Linked DNA regions of Homo sapiens. The protein of the gene in region 3 purifies or fractionates together with the protein of the main gene of each other region. This does not show direct contact. Each region holds a gene or a part of one and is shown on either strand. Other genes may lie near its edges. The genes, in order: GNAI3, COPA, MTNR1B, CTNND1 and RGS20.

Region 1 (3,520 bases), on a different chromosome or scaffold from region 3:
AGGCCATGAGGATTAAACTACATCTCAACTTTTTGGCCTACCACCTCACTCAAAATGTTACATATCTGCACTTATTTGTACTTCTGGTCTTAGAGGTGTCTTACTTCTTGCTCAAAAATCAATTGCTCTACCTATACTCTTTTAAAAAAATTATTGAGGAAAATTAACATAACAGATATTTAACCATTTTAAAGTGTACAATTCTGTGGCACTTAGTGTATTCACAATGTTATGCAATCACCACCTCTCTCTAGTGACAAAACTTTTTCAACACCCTATTCCCATTAAGTAATCACTCCCTTTTCTTCCCATTCTCCCACTTCTCATAACCACTAATATTCTTTCTGTCTCTATGGACAGAAATTGCCCTATTTTGGATATATCATATAATAGAAGTATTGGCCTCTTTTACTTAGCACAGTGTTTTGAGTTTCATACAAGTTGTACCATCTATTATTATTCCTTTTCTTGGGTAAGTAATATTCATTGTATGTATATAACACAATTTGTTTATCCATTTATCCTACCTAGACTCTTAATTCCTTTTTTCCCACCTGCTTGCAAATCTTGCTCCTTCAATTACATCTGTTTTTTAATGTATCTCTTTTGCTTATAGGATCTTAGCCCTCAGCCTATAAACATTCTTAAATCTCTCCCTTCCCTTTAAACCCACGTTGCTCAAGAGTAGTCTACACTTGTCTTCTTTCTTCACTTTCCATTCTGTAACTCACTGTACTCAACTTTCCACTGACACTGCTCTCAACAGCAGGTCAACGACCTCCTAACTGTTAACTCCAAAGGCTCTTTTTCAGTATGTATCTTACTTATCTGCAGATAACACTGTTGACTGAAATATTTAATCAACTCACTTTTTAACCTCTCCTTTTGGTTATGATATCTTTCTTCCTCTCCTGCCAATAGAGGCTGCTATTCTCTCTCGTTCTACCTGTGGTCCTTTTTCTCCTCATTCTATAATATTATCTCCATAGGTCATTTCACCCATTTCCATGTTTTCACTACTGATGATCTCAAACCCCAACCTCTCCTCAACCTCGAATATAACTGTCCATGAGATATTATTTCAACGTTCTATGAATAATTAAAAATCAACATTCCTATACATGAATTCAGGTCACAGCACCAGCATCCAAGACAGAAACCTGGGAGTACCTCTGACTCTTCCCACTTCCTTACCCCTGCTTTACCCCTTCACTTTATTGATTGATTGATTGATTGATTGATTGATGGAGTCTCACTCTGTCACCAGGCTGGAGTGCAGTGGTGCGATCTCGGCTCACCGCAACCTCCGCCTCCCGGGTTCAAGCGATTCTCCTGCCTCAGCCTCCCGAGTAGCTGGGATTACAGGCGCACACCACCATGCCCAGCTAATTTTTCTATTTTTAGTAGAGACAGGGTTTCACCACATTGGTCAGGATGGTCTCGATCTCTTGACCTCATGATCCACCTGCCACGGCCTCCCAAAGTGCTGGGATTACAGGCATGAGCCACTGCACCCAGCCTCACTTTATTATAGAAAGCATTTACAGTGTCTCTGCTAATAAGAGTTCCCCTTCTCTGGAAATACCTGATTCTGATCTATAAGTTTCATAGTGATCCATCCCTGGCAGTTACATTTGTGCCCCTGACCTCAACTGATTGGCCTACAGATTTCTGCCTGACTTAACCACGGCCAGAATCTCTCTCCTTGGAATTTGAAACCAAGGCCAAGCAATCCCAGTCTAGTCTGATCTTTTTTTTTTTTTTGCTCAGTCGCCCAGGCTGGAGTGCAGTGGCGCGATCTCGGCTCACTGCAAGCTCTGCCTCCCGGGTTCATGCCATTCTCCTGCCTCAGCCTCCCGAGTAGCTGGGACTACAGGTGCCTGCCACCAAGCCCAACTAATTTTTTTTGTATTTTTAGTGGAGACGGGGTTTCACTGTGTTAGCCAGGATGGTCTCGATCTCCTAACCTCATGATTCACCCGCCTCGGCCTCCCAAAGTGCTGGGATTACAGGCGTGAGCCACCGCGCCCAGCCTAGTCTGATCTTTTTACCAGAGATACAGAAACTGTGACTAGGCTGTTATCACATAAACTGAATAGCAGAGAAAGCTGGTTAGGAAAGAAAGAATAATAAAAAAGATACACAGAGAGGAGAGAAAAAAGATGGGGATAAAGAGTGCTTCCAGGGTTCCTGACAATTATTTCCTAGTTCTAATTCCATTCTAAGACCTGTCCATTCTTGCCCTTGGGTTCTATGATATATCCCTTAATCCCCATCAAAAGTTTTTATTTCCATCCTGAGTTCTTACTAATTCAAATCCCCTACTATCTATCTTTATTATTTATTGCATAATCTTTCTCAAGCACAGTTTCTTCTATATCATGCACCCCATGATATGGATCATGGTAGGATATTAAACCTTTAACTGATCATCGTCTCAGCATGAGATATAAGGCCCTCCATGAGTTGATCTCTGACCATCTCTCCAACCACTTCTTCCCTGCCACTGTAAACTCTAGTAATACCAAATTCCTTCTGGGTTCCACAACTGGTCATACCATTTTCCTACCTCCATATTCTCATATATGCAATTCCTCTTTTCTAAAATGCTTTTATTCCCGTCTGCCTGATGATTTCTATTTCATCCTCTTAGTAGCTCTAGAAAAAGACTACAGTGACCCCATCAGAAGTAACCACTTCTATTCCACTTCTATTAATGCATATTTTACACTATAATAAAATTATTTATGTGCAATTAAACACTATAATAAAATTATTTATGTCTCTCTGCAACTACATGTCAGTCTCTTGGGCACAATGATTAAAATTTACCCTTGTATTTTCTTCAACATATACCAAATTTTACTTTATTTTTTGTGAGGCAGGGGGGTGTCACTATGTTGCCTAGACTGATCTCAAACTCTTGGGCTCAAATGATCCTCCTGCCTCAAGCTTCCAAGTAGCTAGAATTATAGCCACCATGCCCAGCTCCCAAATTTACTTTTTCTCCTTTTGTATTTTCCTCAAAAAATGAAGATAGAAATTTAAAATAAACACAGAAAACTCAATTGTGTCTGATATGGCACTCTTGACTTAGGGGCTTTTAATCACAGGCTTAATGCCAATGCCACTACCACTGAATACTCTCCCAATCAATCATTAAAAAAAAAAAGGCAGTTTTATGAATGCCACCAAAGTGTTGATCTAAGTAAGATGTGTACCTCCAATAAAATCTTTCATAACCCCTTACCTGTGTATTCTGGATAACAGATAGTTAACGGACTCCTCTTTATTTTTTCCTCAAAAAGGTCTTTCTTGTTAAGGAAGAGAATGATTGAAGTTTCTGTAAACCATTTGTTATTACAAATGCTGTCAAACAGTTTCATGCTTTCATGCATTCGGTTCTGAAAAAGAAATAAAGGATGATAGGTCAGTAGCAAATAGTAAAAGTGGATTAAGTTAATGAAAAAGACAAACCAACAAGTTTTGCAGCACTAAATGGCATTCACGGAAATAAGTC
Region 2 (3,520 bases), on a different chromosome or scaffold from region 3:
TTTCCATCTCTGTATCCAAAGGGGTCCTATGTGTTCACTGGATTTTCTTTTTTTTTTTTTCTTTTTTTTGAGGCGGAGTCTCGCTCTTGTTGCCCAGGCTGGAGTGCAATGGCATGATCTCGGCTCACTGCAACCTCCGCCTCCTGGGTCCAAGCGATTCTCCTGCCTCAGCTTCCCGAGTAGGTGGGACTACAGGCGTGCACCATGATTCCCAGCTAATTTTTTTTGTATTTTTAGTAGAGACAGGGTTTCACCATGTTGGCCAGGATGGTCTCGAGCTCTTGACCTCGGGATCCGCCTGCCTTGGCCTCCCAAAGTGCTGGGATTACAGATGTGAGCCACCGCACCCAGCCGATTTTCAATGGAATTAGACTAAAAGCTAGGAGTAATTGAAAGTATAGGAAGTTCTTCAGGAAATCTATATAGATGCAGATGCTTTGCAGAGTCCTTGGTTTTGAGTCACATTGTCCTTCAACCTGTTAACACGACCCTGGGGATTCTTTAGATTGCTCTGGAAGCAGCCAAAGCACTGGATGACAAGAACTGCTGGGAAAAGCTGGGAGAAGTGGCCCTGCTGCAGGGGAACCACCAGATTGTGGAAATGTGCTATCAGCGTACCAAAAACTTTGACAAACTTTCCTTCCTGTATCTTATCACTGGCAACTTAGAAAAACTTCGCAAGATGATGAAGATTGGTGAGGCCCTCAAACTAAGGATGGGAAGAGGGGTTCTTGGGGGAAGGAGGAAGGTGAATTAAGGAGAAAGAGAACTTAAGAGAAAAGACCTAACTTGGTGTCTCTTACTTGGTGCAGCTGAGATCAGAAAGGACATGAGTGGCCACTATCAGAATGCCCTATACCTGGGTGATGTGTCAGAGCGTGTGCGGATCCTGAAGAACTGTGGACAGAGTAAGTATCCGAGACTTGCCAGCTTTTTCAGGGTCTGAGGAAGTATTTTTCTGTTTTTGTTGAGTTAATCTGTGTATAGTGGTGAGGGATTTCTCTTTATTGTGCATTTTTTTAGGAGAGACAACATGCTCCTACTGTGCTTAGAAGATTTTCTTCAAAGCCAAAGGGAGGTGCAGCCAGAATATTCAGTCCAGCCAAACACCCTTAGGAGAATAGTTATTCATGGGGGAGATAGGAGGTTTTAAAAGGTCTTGAGTGGACGCCCTAGTAAATGCACTTGGTTGGATGCCATTAGAATTTTATTCTTTATTTTCAGTTTGGAGGTTTCACTCATTTATTCATGTATATAGTCAAGGGATATTTTTTGAGAACCCACTATATACCAAGCATTATATTAGCATTTAAGATACATTAGGAAACAAGCAAGGTGAAAGATGAGGTTTGGACCAAGGCGCTATTAGTGGAGGGGTGAGCAGTGGTCAGATTCAGGATATATTTTAAGGTAGAAACAACATGATTTATTGCGGTAACTAGATTTGAGATGTAACAGAGAGGAGTCAGGGATATCCAAGGTTCTCAGCACGGATGGATACGTCTCAAAGATAAGCAGCTATATTAGTTCTCTATTTCTGTGTAACAAATTATCCCCAAATTTAGTAGTTTAAAACCACAAACATTTATTATTTCACAATTTGTGGCATGGCTTAGCTAGGTGCCTCCGGCTTAGGATCTCTCATGAGGCTACAGTCAAAGTGTTGGCCAGAACTGCAGATATCTGAAGACTCACCGGGGAGAGAATCTACTTCTGCACTCACTCAATGGCCATTGGCAGCCCCCATGTCCTTGCTCCCTGTTGTCTAAGAAACATCACTTTCTTTTCGTGTTGACCTCTCCATAGGAGTTTGTAACGTGGTAGCTAGTTTCCCTTACAGCAAGTGAGCAAAAGAGGGCACCCCAAGATAGAAGCCACAATCTTTGTAACCAGATCTAGGAAGTAACATCCCATCACATCTGCCATGTTCCATCCATTAGAAGCTATTTAATAAATCCAGCCCACACTTAAGAGGTGGGTATTTTGCAACAACTTGAATACCAGGAGTCAGGGATTACTGGGGGGCCATTTCAGAGGTTGCTTACCACAGCAGCATGCATTTGGAAATGTACCTATACCACAAAGTCTGTTTTCTCTACAGAGTCCCTGGCCTATCTCACAGCTGCTACCCATGGCTTAGATGAAGAAGCTGAGAGCCTAAAGGAGACATTTGACCCAGAGAAGGAGACAGTGAGTCTTTATTTACATAATTGTCTCTTATTACAGGATTAACTCTAGGATCTTAGAACAATTTAAAATTATGAATGTCACTCTCCCACCTGGTTACCAGGAGAGGCAGAGAAACAAATGAGATCAAAGGAGGCTCCATAACTTTCCTTACGTGACTTCCAAGTGCTATTTGTTTTTAGCCTCTTTTCTTCTACTATTCAGATCCCAGACATTGACCCTAATGCCAAGCTGCTCCAGCCACCTGCACCTATCATGCCATTGGATACCAATTGGCCTTTATTGACTGTATCCAAAGGATTTTTTGAAGGCACCATTGCCAGCAAAGGTAAGTACCTATTTCTCCCATAGCACTTTTGTTGTTTGTTTTGTGAAGAACTGTCCTAGAGAATACCATTAGCATTTAGTTTAACTTGTCCTTTTTTTCTGCATGGAGCCTAATGGAATATTGAAATGCCAGTCATTTATGGTGCAGTCTTAAAAACTTAAGATAGCATTTTCAGGTCATTAAAGAAAATTTGGAAAATAGGGAGAAAAAAAGGGATCCCTCTACTACCATCAATAACTTCGGTTAATATTTTGGTGTATTTTCTTAGGTTTTACTATATATGTAGTCATGTTCTTTGTTCAGTATTTTATCATTCATGACATACAATCTTAAAGGTACTAATTCAACTACCTGTAATTCCGGTATGTGGGTATAGGCAGATGTGTGCTATCACCCTCCACCACTTCCACCCTTAACCTCCTCCTGTTTTCTGGGTCTCCTAGTTCATTTCCCGTGAGTAAGAGCCTAAACAGACTCTTGAGCATTTTGTGCCAAACCCCACTCTTTTCTCCACCTCCTCTATCTACCCTATGCCTGATGCCCTGTACACATTGTAGTGGTGGTAGCTTAGCAAAGCGCTCAGGAAGAAATTCAAGAGTTGGTAGCCAAAGGCTGGTAAGTACAAATTATTTAAGAGCCAGTTTTTGGTAGCAGGAAGGCCAGTTCCTTCCATCTGTCTTCTATTCCCTCCCTCTGTGAAAGCTACTGCAAGTTAGCATAACATATATACCACAAAAATAAATAATACACAAAAATAAATAGTAAGTAGGCAGAAGCTTGGCACCTGTTTTTGAAAGGATTTAACCTGCCTACAGAAAAGGCCGTATCTCAGACTTGCTGGACTATAACCAGTTCCGTTCTGTTCCTTCCCTCTGTAGGGAAGGGAGGAGCACTGGCTGCTGACATTGACATTGACACTGTTGGTACAGAGGGCTGGGGAGAGGATGCAGAGCTGCAGTTGGATGAAGGTAAAAGTGCTGTTTTAAGACTGTTCTGGGGTGATGG
Region 3 (3,520 bases):
TAGGAAACCAGGGAGACAGGATGTAACTGAATAGAAAGGAGATTGTCTGGACAATTAGAGCGCTTGTGAGGTAGTGAGTTTCCCTGTCTCAAGATTGTCCAGCAAGTTGGATGGCAAAGGAGAATCATGACTCAACTGAACTGCTGGATTCCTACCTACTCTACTATTCACAGATTTATTTACTTCATGGGTTAAAAATGACCTCATTTCCTTTCTGGTTGGTACAGCAAGGCAAAAAATGTGCAACAAGGACCTGCTTGGGATGTGGAGGGGTTTTGTGCCTTTTAATTTAATTCTCAGCCCGCTGGCTGTCTCCACTGCTGGATCTCCATCTCTGACTCATCTACACAGACCTCACTTGGTTCCAAGAACATGAGGGATTCCCTCTCTCACATTGCTTGTCTTCAGCTGAATCAGGAACCCTTGTCTCCTGAGAATTTTATGTGTCCTTTTGAAATCTGGAGGGTTGTGCTGAAGTCAGAGAAATCTGGGATAATCTGAGTCCTGCCACTTTATGGTTGAATGAATTTGGGCGAGTTCCCGAGTTCCTTTCTTGGTGACTATTCCTACATGAGCTCCTTTCTTTTCTTTCAGAGCTCTGCCATCACTTCCCCCTGCACACTCATAGGGTTGGTTCTGTGAAGAGAATCACTTCTCTCCAGCACAGGAAGATGAGTCTCCATAGGACCCGCTGGGCACCTGGCCCAGCAACACACAAGCTCTTGGCACTTGCAAGCTGAGCAGAGAAAGTCAAGAGCTGCTGGGAGCCGGTGCCAGCTCTGCCAGCTGTTTCCCTGTGAAGGCAGAGTCAAGTTCTGCTGTGTTAATGTGGCTTATCCCCTAATAATGCCCCAGAGGCTGGCAAACAGCTTGTAAATAGTAAGAAGAACACATTCAACTCCATGTGGAAAGTGATTCAATTACTATCCCCTATTACTCTGGCTGTTCCTAAAAGGCTGAAATCAACCACTTCCTGCTATAGATTCATCTGCCCAGACATCCCACTGTCTCCAGGCTTTCTTGGCACAATTCCAAATTAGATGAATAAAATTTGTGTTTTGTCTTCCATCTGTAAGAAGCCAGGTCCTATGTGGATGATAGTCAAGGGGAGATCCAGTTCTCCATCCATTTCTTCCCCAGACAGGTGAGAAATCACTCAGTATGCACACAGCACTGCAGTCACCGTGTGCATAATGAATATTTATGTCATGGGTCCTGGCGTGACTCGTTTCCATCTGCCTCCAGCAGATAGGGTGTATTAGTGGAGAGAGGCTTTGACAAGAGGGCTTTGTTTACTAACATGGAATCCCCTTCAGGATTCATACGCAGAGCGCATCCTTTCACACACACAACCATCACAGTCTCCTCCCTCTTCTCTTCCTCTCTCTTTCTTTCTGGAAAATGTATTTCTTAATGGAGATCTGGTAATCTAGGAAAGAGCCAGCCAGTGCTGAGCTATCTAATATTCGTCAGATAGGAGAATTCTGGAAGGTAAAGCTCCCTGTAACCCTTGCCCCCCTCCTCTGTGCTCACCCTCCATGCTCAGAAGAAAAATTTGGTTAGACATAAATTCTCCTTGGTCATTGAGCTAAAAGACAAGATAGAAAGAGAGAATCATCAAGTCATTTATGTGACAAATATTGCTGAGTATATACTAGGTTCTGCCTTTGACTATGCCAGATGGACAGGCTACCTCCCCTTATAAAGTTTATGGTCTCTTAGGGAAGACCATTAAACAAATAAAAACAAGGTGCCAAGAGGGATATGTTGGGGAAGTCAACAAATGATCTATGTTTTCTAACAGTGTTAAACTTTCTGTGCCTTGAGGTCTTCTTCCACTCTTCCATCTGTTTAAATGTGTAATATATTTATTGAGTGCCTACCACATTCAAGTAAGACGCAGTGATGGATGAAAGACATGGCCCCTGCCATTGAGATGCCCATGGAACTGTTAGGGAAACAAAAGAAAACAGTAGCCATTCAATTAGGTGAGAGCTGGAAGAAAGGCCAGAACAAGGTGGTGGGAACAGTGGGGAATTTGTGAGTCAACTTGGGACTGGGGACAATGGCAGGATATGGGGTTGGTCAGGCACGACAATTCACCAAGGAGCTACACAAAATTACCAAGACTTTTGCAACAGAACTCCTAACTCCCAGAATGGCTGTTTACCTCAAATAAGATGTTGTATGGGAAAGGTCATGAGAAATAACAATAATCACCAAATTAATGTGAGATATTCTTATTATGTTCTGGGGATGGGCATTTGAAATAATTGACCATATAATTTATTCACAACTTGATTTTCAAACAAACACTAAAACAATGCATTTATTGTAAGCTTGTAATTAGATTCCCAAATCTCTTGAGAGCAGATATTTTTTTCTTCCAAAGTCACATATTTATGAAAATCTTAGGATGTGTGGATGAATCATACAAGAGCTGAGTTGAAATCTAACTTTGATTTAATTAGAAAACAAAAACTGGCTAATCAATAGTGTACACAGATATATATGGGGGTATTTCAACCACTTAAAAGAAGAAAATATATTTAAGAACATAAGCATCCATTTAAAAACATAACTAAGATGCTTTACAAAATATTCTTCAATAACCATCAAAAGAGATCATTTTGAAATTCTGATAGGTAACATTTTATTACTTTACACTTAATAGCAACAAAACAACCATTGATATAACATGGTGAAGTTGATAGTATAGTTTTACATAAATGGACTCCATTGTTTTTCACAAGAATTCCTTAAGGTTGACAGCATGATTTCTGTTTTATAGATAAAGAAACAGACACCCAGTTTGTGTGAATTGCTCATAGCCATAACACAGAAGGATTGAGAAAGAACAAGAAGAGGAGAAAACCAAAGAAAAGAAATATCAAGGGAATTAAGAGAAAGGGTGTAGAGAGTTTCTTGGTCATCTACAAAAGTGAGAAAGGACAGAAAAGTGCTCATTGGACTTGGTAGTTAGGAAGGCAGTAGTGACATTAACAAGAACAAATTCTGTTGAGAGCTTGGGGATCCAGTTTTGCCCTGGAGATTGCTCTATCAGTGTTGCCTTCAAAAGAAGGAGATAGAGAGTGGCGCTTAGGAAGGAATATCCCTTTGATAGGGGACAGTGGAGGGCTTTTTTTGCCTTTTCTTTCTCTCTTAAAGGAAAGAGACTTGAATCTGGCATATAACAAGCACTAGTAATATTAGCTATTATTTGTTATTACTGTTTTATATTATTAGCTGTACTGACAGATCAAGAAAGAGGCTCATAAGGTTGGACTGGGATCCCTGTGAGATAAGATGTGAGAAGTAGTAAGGACATGAAGATGAAGAAAGTAGGACATTCCTTCTAGATGGCAAACTCCCTAAGAACTGGGGCTTTACTTCCCAATTCTCTATCTCTACTCCTCCAGCAGTAAGTATTTTAAATTGAAAGAGCCAGTAGGAGCTTTCAGTATTCTCTGAATTTTGTGGTATATCATATCCGAATGCAGAATCCAGCTTTCTGGAGATA
Region 4 (3,520 bases), about 35 Mb from region 3:
GCAATTCTCCTGCCTCAGCCTCCCGAGTAGCTGGTATTACAGGCACACACCACCACACCTGGCTAATTTTTTGTATTTTTAGTAGAGACGGGGTTTCACTATGTTGCCCAGACTGGTCTCAAACTCCTGACCTCGTGATCCGCCCACCTCAGCCTCCCACAGGGCTGGGATTACAAGCGTGACCCACCGCGCCCAGCCATGAACAATTAAATTCTATACCACTCCAAAAGAAACAAATCTTTATATCCCTAGGTCACTTTACCTAGGAATGCCTTAAAGCCTACCATCTATCTTTCTTTCCATCCTATAGGAAGTCCCCAAGCAGGAAAATTGCCCTGACAGTAACTATGCTTATAAGGGAAGCTACTATAGACCCTGATATACCTTCTGTCTTCCCTATCCCATAAGATTTTCCCATCTCTTCATCCTTTCTATCTGGCCAGAGATCACTTCATGCAATCAGATCAATAATGGCATATCAGTCCTCCATCTTAATTAAGTGCTTAACCCCTCCCCTAATAGAGAAGAAAAGACCTCTTATCACTTCCAGATCTTACACACGTCTTAGTTTACCGTGGTCTCTGTGCGCCGAGTGGTCCCATCATCTGAGGTCTCCACAGAGACTACAGACATGGCTCCCTCAGGATCCTCCTCCGTGTAGGTCTCCACAATCTGCCCCGGCTCCTGCATCCTGGGGATGGTGCTATATAGAAGGTGACTGTGATCCTATATGCAAAAGAGAAAAGAGAAGAAACTACTATTAAGTGCTATGTATAACAAGCCATCCTAATAAGAAGCATAAGTGGTAAACCTGGAGACAGGGACTCCTCATGCATCTTCTATAGGCCTCAGGATTTTTAGATGGGTGGCTGTCATCTTTTGAACTTGTACAAAAGGACAGTAGACATAATTTCCCAGTTGTAGTCATTTAACAAACATGAACTAACTATAGCCACATCAACATCCAAGTGACAGACAGTAGATTTAACTTCCCAGCTGTGGTCATCTAAGTGAACATGAACTGTGTTAAATGCAGTTTCATCTATATCTGAGTGATCCCTCAAAAGAGCAGCTCACCCAATAAATAAATAACTTGTATTTATTTACTTGAGATAGGGTCTCACTCTATCACCCAAGCTAGAGTGCAGTGGCATGATCATAGCTCACTGGAGCCCCAACCTCCCAGGCTCAAGCAATCTTGCCATTTCAGCCTCCTGAGTAGCTAGAACTACAGGCTCACGCCACCATGCCTGGCTAATTTTATTTTTTTTGTAGAGACAGGGTCTATGTTGCCCAGGCTGGTCTTGAACTCCTGGGCTCAAGCAATCCTCCAGCCTCAGCCTCCCAAAGTGCTGGAATTACAGGAATGAGCAAACCACGCCTGGCCAAAATAAAGAACTTTGTTTTTTTTTTTTTTTTGAGACGGAGTTTTGCTCTGCCTTGGCCTCCCAAAGTGTTGGATTACAGGCATGAGACACCGTGCCCAGTCTAAAATAAAGAACTTTTTTTTTTTTTTTGAGACAGAGTTTTGCTCTTGTTGCCCAGGCTGGAGTACAATGGCATGATCTCAGCTCACCACAATCTCCGCCACCTGGTTTCAAGCAATTCTCCTGCCTCAGCCTCCCGAGTAGCTGGGATTACAGGCATGTGCCACCACGCCTGACTAATTTTGTATTTTCAGTAGAGACGGGGTTTCTCCATGTTGGTCAGGCTGGTCTCCAACTCCCGACCTGAGGTGATCTGCCCACCTCAGCCTCCCAAAGTGCTGGGATTACAGGCATGAGCCACCATGCCTGGCCAAAAATAAAGAACTTTTAAGACAAACCTGAAAATCCCAGTAAGAGCCATCTTTTGACTGGCTTTATGTTACTCTTCAGATACCGTCTAAAAGGCTCAAGACCAGCCAGATTTTAGGTAGGGTTTTTTGCTGCAAAGTAGAAGCCTACTGTCTCTAGAAAAGAAACGCAGTACTTAGGGATCAAATGGGGTGGCAGTGGGGAGGAGGAATAGTCATAAAGATCAATGGTCATTAAAATTCATTCCAAAACAAAACTGCATATATACTTTGGAGCTCCACTTCTTTGTTTTCGTAAATAAAAGAAACTAATTGACGAGTATGTACAATGTGCCAGGCACCTTACAAGACACAAATATGCTCTTATAGGCTGGGGAAATAAGAAAATATGAATGAAGCAACCCAGGTCTTGAGCCAAAGAATTACCTGGGGTCCGTTGAGTTTCAAATCTGAAAATTTCTGTCTTTCAAGGTCAGCATCGCCCACAAACCGGCCGTTCTGAAACACAGCCCACAAGAAGACAATTCATTTTGTGGCCTTCTTTTGCTCTATCAAATACAAACGATCTTTTTTTCAAACAGGAAAAGGGCTTTCAAGAAGATATGTGTGGCCTGGAGTCCTTGTGTCAGTACTCATAAAAGAACCATTCACTCTTTAGTCTTAGCACTTTCCTCAAAATTGAAAATCAGGCCTGGAACTCTGGCAGACAGGGTCTCTGGAACATAAGAACGTAAACTCCACGAGGGCAGAGGGTTTTTTGGGATAAGTTTAGTTTAGTCTAGTGCCTTGAACAGTGCCTGGCACATAACAGGTGCTCAAAAACTATTTGCTGAATAAACAGCACAGACCTAGATAATTTCCCTTACATGCAACCTTTTTGGAAAGCCATAAAAATGTAAGGAAAGTTGGAAGGGCTAAGTTGGGGGGTTTCCAAAGAGCTTTATAGTCTCATGAATCTTCATGCAGTACTACCACTGGAAACTCCCATTCCAGGCAGCTTTTTAAAGAAAGAAGCAAGATGGCTATCATGTCCTAATGTAAAAAACAGAAATTTAATTAAAGAAAAAAGCAAGAGATACGAGTCTCCCTTTCCAAGTACAAAAACAAGCACCCCAACTCCCCTCAAGAAAACAGAAGGCTCAATATCTTTACCAACAATTATTAGAGCCACAGAATACATTCCAAAATGTCATCCAGAAGTTGCTCTGTCTTAAGCAGCAGGAAATAATCTAATGACATTATACCACATAAAAATATATTTGCCTGCTCCTCTTCCAGTAGAATAGTGAGATCCAACCACCTTGGGAGACTCTTCCTCCACCCCACTCCCATTACATAGAGTGTAATGCTGCAGGGAGAGGAAGTTAAACATTACTTTCAGGAAGAAGGAAGGGTGTGGTTTTACTGCTAAGCAGAAGTTAAAAATAAGAGAGCAACCACATACTGAATCCTGGAATTCCCCATGACCTCCAAACCTGAGCAGTCCAGCTTTCTCCTTTCAATATAATTTCATCCCTAACTTTCTATTGTAGTTCCTGTAAAAATCCTAGGAACACTGCAAGCATGCTGCCTCCCTCAAATTCCTTGATCCTCCAACTGGAATTCTGTTCTCTCTCAACTGCAAGGCTCCTCAGTATGAGGGACTTTCTCTATCTTAAAAAAAAAAAAAAAAAAATCACTCAGCCGGGTGCAGTAGCTCACGCGTAATCCCAGTACTTTGGGAGG
Region 5 (3,520 bases), on a different chromosome or scaffold from region 3:
ATCAGCTTAAGGAGATTTTGGGCTGAGATGATGAGGTTTTCTAAATATACAATCATGTCATCTGCAAACAGAGATAATTTGACTCTCTCTCTTCCTATTTGGATACCATTTATTTCTTTCTCTTGCCTGATTGCCCTGGCCAGAACTTCCAATACTATGTTGAATAGGAGTGGTAAGAGACGGCATTCTTGTCTTGTGCCAGTTTTCAAAGGGAATGCTTCCAGCTTTTGTCCATTCAACATGATATTGGTTGTGGGTGTGTCATAAATAGGTCTTGTTATTTTGAGATACATTCCATCAATACCTAGTTTATTGAGAGTTTTTAGCATGAAAGGGTGTTGAATTTTATTGAAGGCCTTTTCTGCATCTATTGAGATAATCATGTGGTTTTCGTCATTGGTTCTGTTTATGTGATGGATTATGTTTATTGATTTGCATATGTTGAACCAGCCTTGCATCCCAGGGATGAAGCCGACTTGATGGTGGTGGATAAGCTTTTTGATGTGCTGCTGGATTCGGTTTGCCAGTATTTTATTGAGGATGTTCGCATTGATGTTCATCAGGGATATTGGCCTGAAATTTTCTTTTTTTGTTGTGTCTCTGGCAGGTTTTGGTATCAGGATAATGCTGGACTCAAAATGAGTTAGGGAGGAGTCCCTCTTTTTCTATTGTTTCTATTGTTTGGAATGGTACCAGCTCCTCTTTGTACCTCTGGTAGAATTAGGCTGTGAATCTGTCTGGTCCTGGGCCTTTTTTTGGTTGGTAGGCTATTAATTACTGCCTCAATTTTAGAACTTGTTATTGTTCTATTCAGGGATTTGACTTCTTCCTGATTTAGTCTTGGGAGGGTGTATGTGTCCAGGAATTTATCTGTTTCTTCTAGATTTTCTAGTTTATTTGTGTAGAGGTGTTTATAATATTCTCTGATGGTAGTTTGTATTTCTGTGGGATCAGTGGTGATATCTGCTTTATAATTTTTTATTGTGTCTATTTGATTCTCCTGTCTTTTCTTCTTTATTAGTCTGGCTAGTGGTCTAGCTATTTTGTTGATCTTTTCAAAAACCAGCTCCTTGATTCATTGATTTTTTGAAGGATTTTTTGGTGTCCTCCTTCAGTTCTGCTCTGATCTTAGTTATCTGTTGTCTTCTGCTGGCTTTTGAATTTGTTTGCTCTCACTTCTCTAGTTCTTTAATTGTGATGTTAGGGTGTCAATTCTAGATTTTTCCTGCTTTCTCCTTTGGGCATTTAGTGCTATAAATTTCCCTCTAAACGCTGCTTTAGCTGTGTCCCAGAGATACTGGTAGGTTGTGTCTTTGTTCTCATTGGTTTCAAAAAACTTATTTATTTTTGCCTTAATTTCATTATTTACTCAGTAGTCATTCAAGAGCAGGTTGTTCAGTTTCCATGCAGTTGTGCGGTTTTGAGTGAGTTTCTTATTCCTGAGTTCTAATTTGATTGCACTGTGGCCTGAGAGACTGTTTGTTGTGATTTCTGTTCTTTTGCGTTTGCCGAGGAGTGTTTTACTTTCAATTATGTGGTCAATTTTAGAATAAATGTGATGTGGTGCTGAGAAGACTGTATATTCTGTTGGTATGGGGTTGAGAGTTCTGTAGATGTCTATTAGGTCTGCTTGGTCCAGAGCTGAGTTCAAGTCCTGAATATCCTTGTTAATTTTCTGTCTCGTTAATCTGTCTAATATTGACAGTGGGGTGTAAAAGTCTCCAACTATTATTGTGTGGGAGTCTACGTCTCTTTGTAGGTCTCTAAGAACTTGCTTTATGAATATGGATGCTCCTTTATTGGGTGCATATATGTTTAGGATAGTTATCTCTTCTTGTTGTGTTGATCCCTTTACCATTATGTAATGATGCCCTTCTTTGTCTTTTTTGATCATTGTTGGTTTAAAGTCTGTTTTATCAGAGACTAGGATTGCAACGCTTGCTTCTTTTTGCTTTCCATTTGCTTGTAAATATTCCTCCATGCCTTTATTTTGAGTCTATGTGTGTCTCTGCACGTGAGATGGGTCTCCTAAATACAGCACACTGTTGGGTCTTGACCTTTAGCCAATCTGCCAGTCTGCATCTTTTAATTGGGGCATTTAGCCTGTTTACATTTAAGCTTAATATTGTTATGTGTGAATTTGATCCTGTCATTATGATGCTAGCTGGTTATTTTGCCCATTAGTTGATGCAGTTTCTTCATAGTGTTGATGGTCTTTACAATTTGGTACATTTTTGTAGTGGCTGATGCCGGTTTTTCCTTTCCGTGTGTAGTACGTCCTTCAGGAGCTCTTGTAGGGCAGGCCTGGTGGTGACAAAATCTCTCAGCATTTGCTTGTCTGTAAAGGATTTCATTTCTCCTTTGCTTATGAAGCATAGTTTGGCTGGATATAAAATTCTGGGTTGAAAATTCTTTTCTTTAAGAATGTTGAATATTGGACCCCACTCTCTTCTGGCTTGTAGGGTTTCTGCAGAGAGATGTGCTGTTAGTCTGATGGGCTTCCCTTTGTGGGTAACCCGACCTTTCTCTCTGGCTGCCCTTAACATTTTTTCCTTCATTTCAACCTTGGTGAATCTGATGATTATGAGTCTTGGGTTGCTCTCTACGAGGAATATCTTCGTGGTGTTCTCTGTATTTCCTGAGTTTGAACGTTGGCCTCTCTTGCTAGGTTGGGGAAGTTCTCCCAGATAATATCCTGAAGAGTGTTTTCCAACTTGGTTCCATTCTCCCCGTCACTTTCAGGTACACCAATCAAATGTAGATTTGGTCTTTCTCATAGTCCCATATTTCTTGGAGGCTTTGTTCATTCCTTTTCATTCATTTTTCTCTAATCTTGTCTTCACACTTTATTTCATTAAGTTGATCTTCAATCTCTGATATCCTTTCTTCCACTTGATCAATTCGGCTATTGATACTTGTGTATGCTTCAGGAAGTTCTTGTGCTGTGTTTTTCAGCTACATCAGGTCATTTATATTCTTCTCTAAAATGGTTATTCTAGATAGCAATTCCTCTAATCTTTTTTCAAGGTTCTTAGCTTCCTTTCATTGGGTTAGAACATGCTCCTTTAGCTCAGAGGAGTTTATTACCTACCTTCTGAAGCCTCCTTCTGTCAATGCGTCAAACTCATTCTCTGTCCAGTTTTGTTCCCTTGCTGGCAACGAGTTGTGATCCTTTGGAGTAGAAGAGACATTCTGGTTTTTGCAATTTTCAGCCTTTTTGCACTGGTTTTTCCTCATCTTCATGGATTTATCTACCTTTGGTTTTTGATGTTGGTGATCTTTGGATGGGGTTTCTGTGTGGACGTCCTTTTTGTTGATGTTGATGCTATTCCTTTCGTTTGTTAGCTTTCCTTCTAACAGGCCCCTCTGCTGCAGGTCTGCTGGAGTTTGCTGGAGGTCCATGCCAGACCCTGTTTGCCAGGGTATCACTAGCAAAGGCTGCAGAACAGCTGCCTGTTCCTTCCTCTGGAAGCTTCATCCCAGAGGGGCACCCACCAGAGGCCAGTTGGAGCGCTCCTGT

Evidence for each region.
Region 1: the proteins of MTNR1B (region 3) and GNAI3 purify together in Homo sapiens (tandem affinity purification; 2 studies listed by IntAct). This does not show direct contact.
Region 2: the proteins of MTNR1B (region 3) and COPA purify together in Homo sapiens (tandem affinity purification; 2 studies listed by IntAct). This does not show direct contact.
Region 4: the proteins of MTNR1B (region 3) and CTNND1 purify together in Homo sapiens (tandem affinity purification; one large-scale study listed by IntAct). This does not show direct contact.
Region 5: the proteins of MTNR1B (region 3) and RGS20 purify together in Homo sapiens (co-immunoprecipitation; one study listed by IntAct). This does not show direct contact.

The regions. Positions count from the first base shown.
Region 1 is NC_000001.11:109,586,613-109,590,132, reverse strand, and holds part of GNAI3 (guanine nucleotide-binding protein G(i) subunit alpha-3), read right to left. Parts: intron 3,405-3,520; coding exon 3,251-3,404; intron 1-3,250. UniProt on the Homo sapiens protein: Heterotrimeric guanine nucleotide-binding proteins (G proteins) function as transducers downstream of G protein-coupled receptors (GPCRs) in numerous signaling cascades.
Region 2 is NC_000001.11:160,294,731-160,298,250, reverse strand, and holds part of COPA (coatomer subunit alpha), read left to right. Parts: intron 1-505; coding exon 506-695; intron 696-812; coding exon 813-908; intron 909-2,101; coding exon 2,102-2,190; intron 2,191-2,391; coding exon 2,392-2,515; intron 2,516-3,393; coding exon 3,394-3,483; intron 3,484-3,520. UniProt on the Homo sapiens protein: The coatomer is a cytosolic protein complex that binds to dilysine motifs and reversibly associates with Golgi non-clathrin-coated vesicles, which further mediate biosynthetic protein transport from the ER, via the Golgi up to the trans Golgi network.
Region 3 is NC_000011.10:92,976,151-92,979,670, reverse strand, and holds part of MTNR1B (melatonin receptor type 1B), read right to left. Parts: intron 2,513-3,520; exon of another isoform or gene 1,981-2,512; coding exon of another isoform or gene 1,884-1,980; intron 1-1,883.
Region 4 is NC_000011.10:57,792,783-57,796,302, reverse strand, and holds part of CTNND1 (catenin delta-1), read right to left. Parts: intron 2,294-3,520; coding exon 2,222-2,293; intron 727-2,221; coding exon 574-726; intron 1-573. UniProt on the Homo sapiens protein: Key regulator of cell-cell adhesion that associates with and regulates the cell adhesion properties of both C-, E- and N-cadherins, being critical for their surface stability.
Region 5 is NC_000008.11:53,932,864-53,936,383, reverse strand, and holds part of RGS20 (regulator of G-protein signaling 20), read right to left. Parts: intron 1-3,520. UniProt on the Homo sapiens protein: Inhibits signal transduction by increasing the GTPase activity of G protein alpha subunits thereby driving them into their inactive GDP-bound form.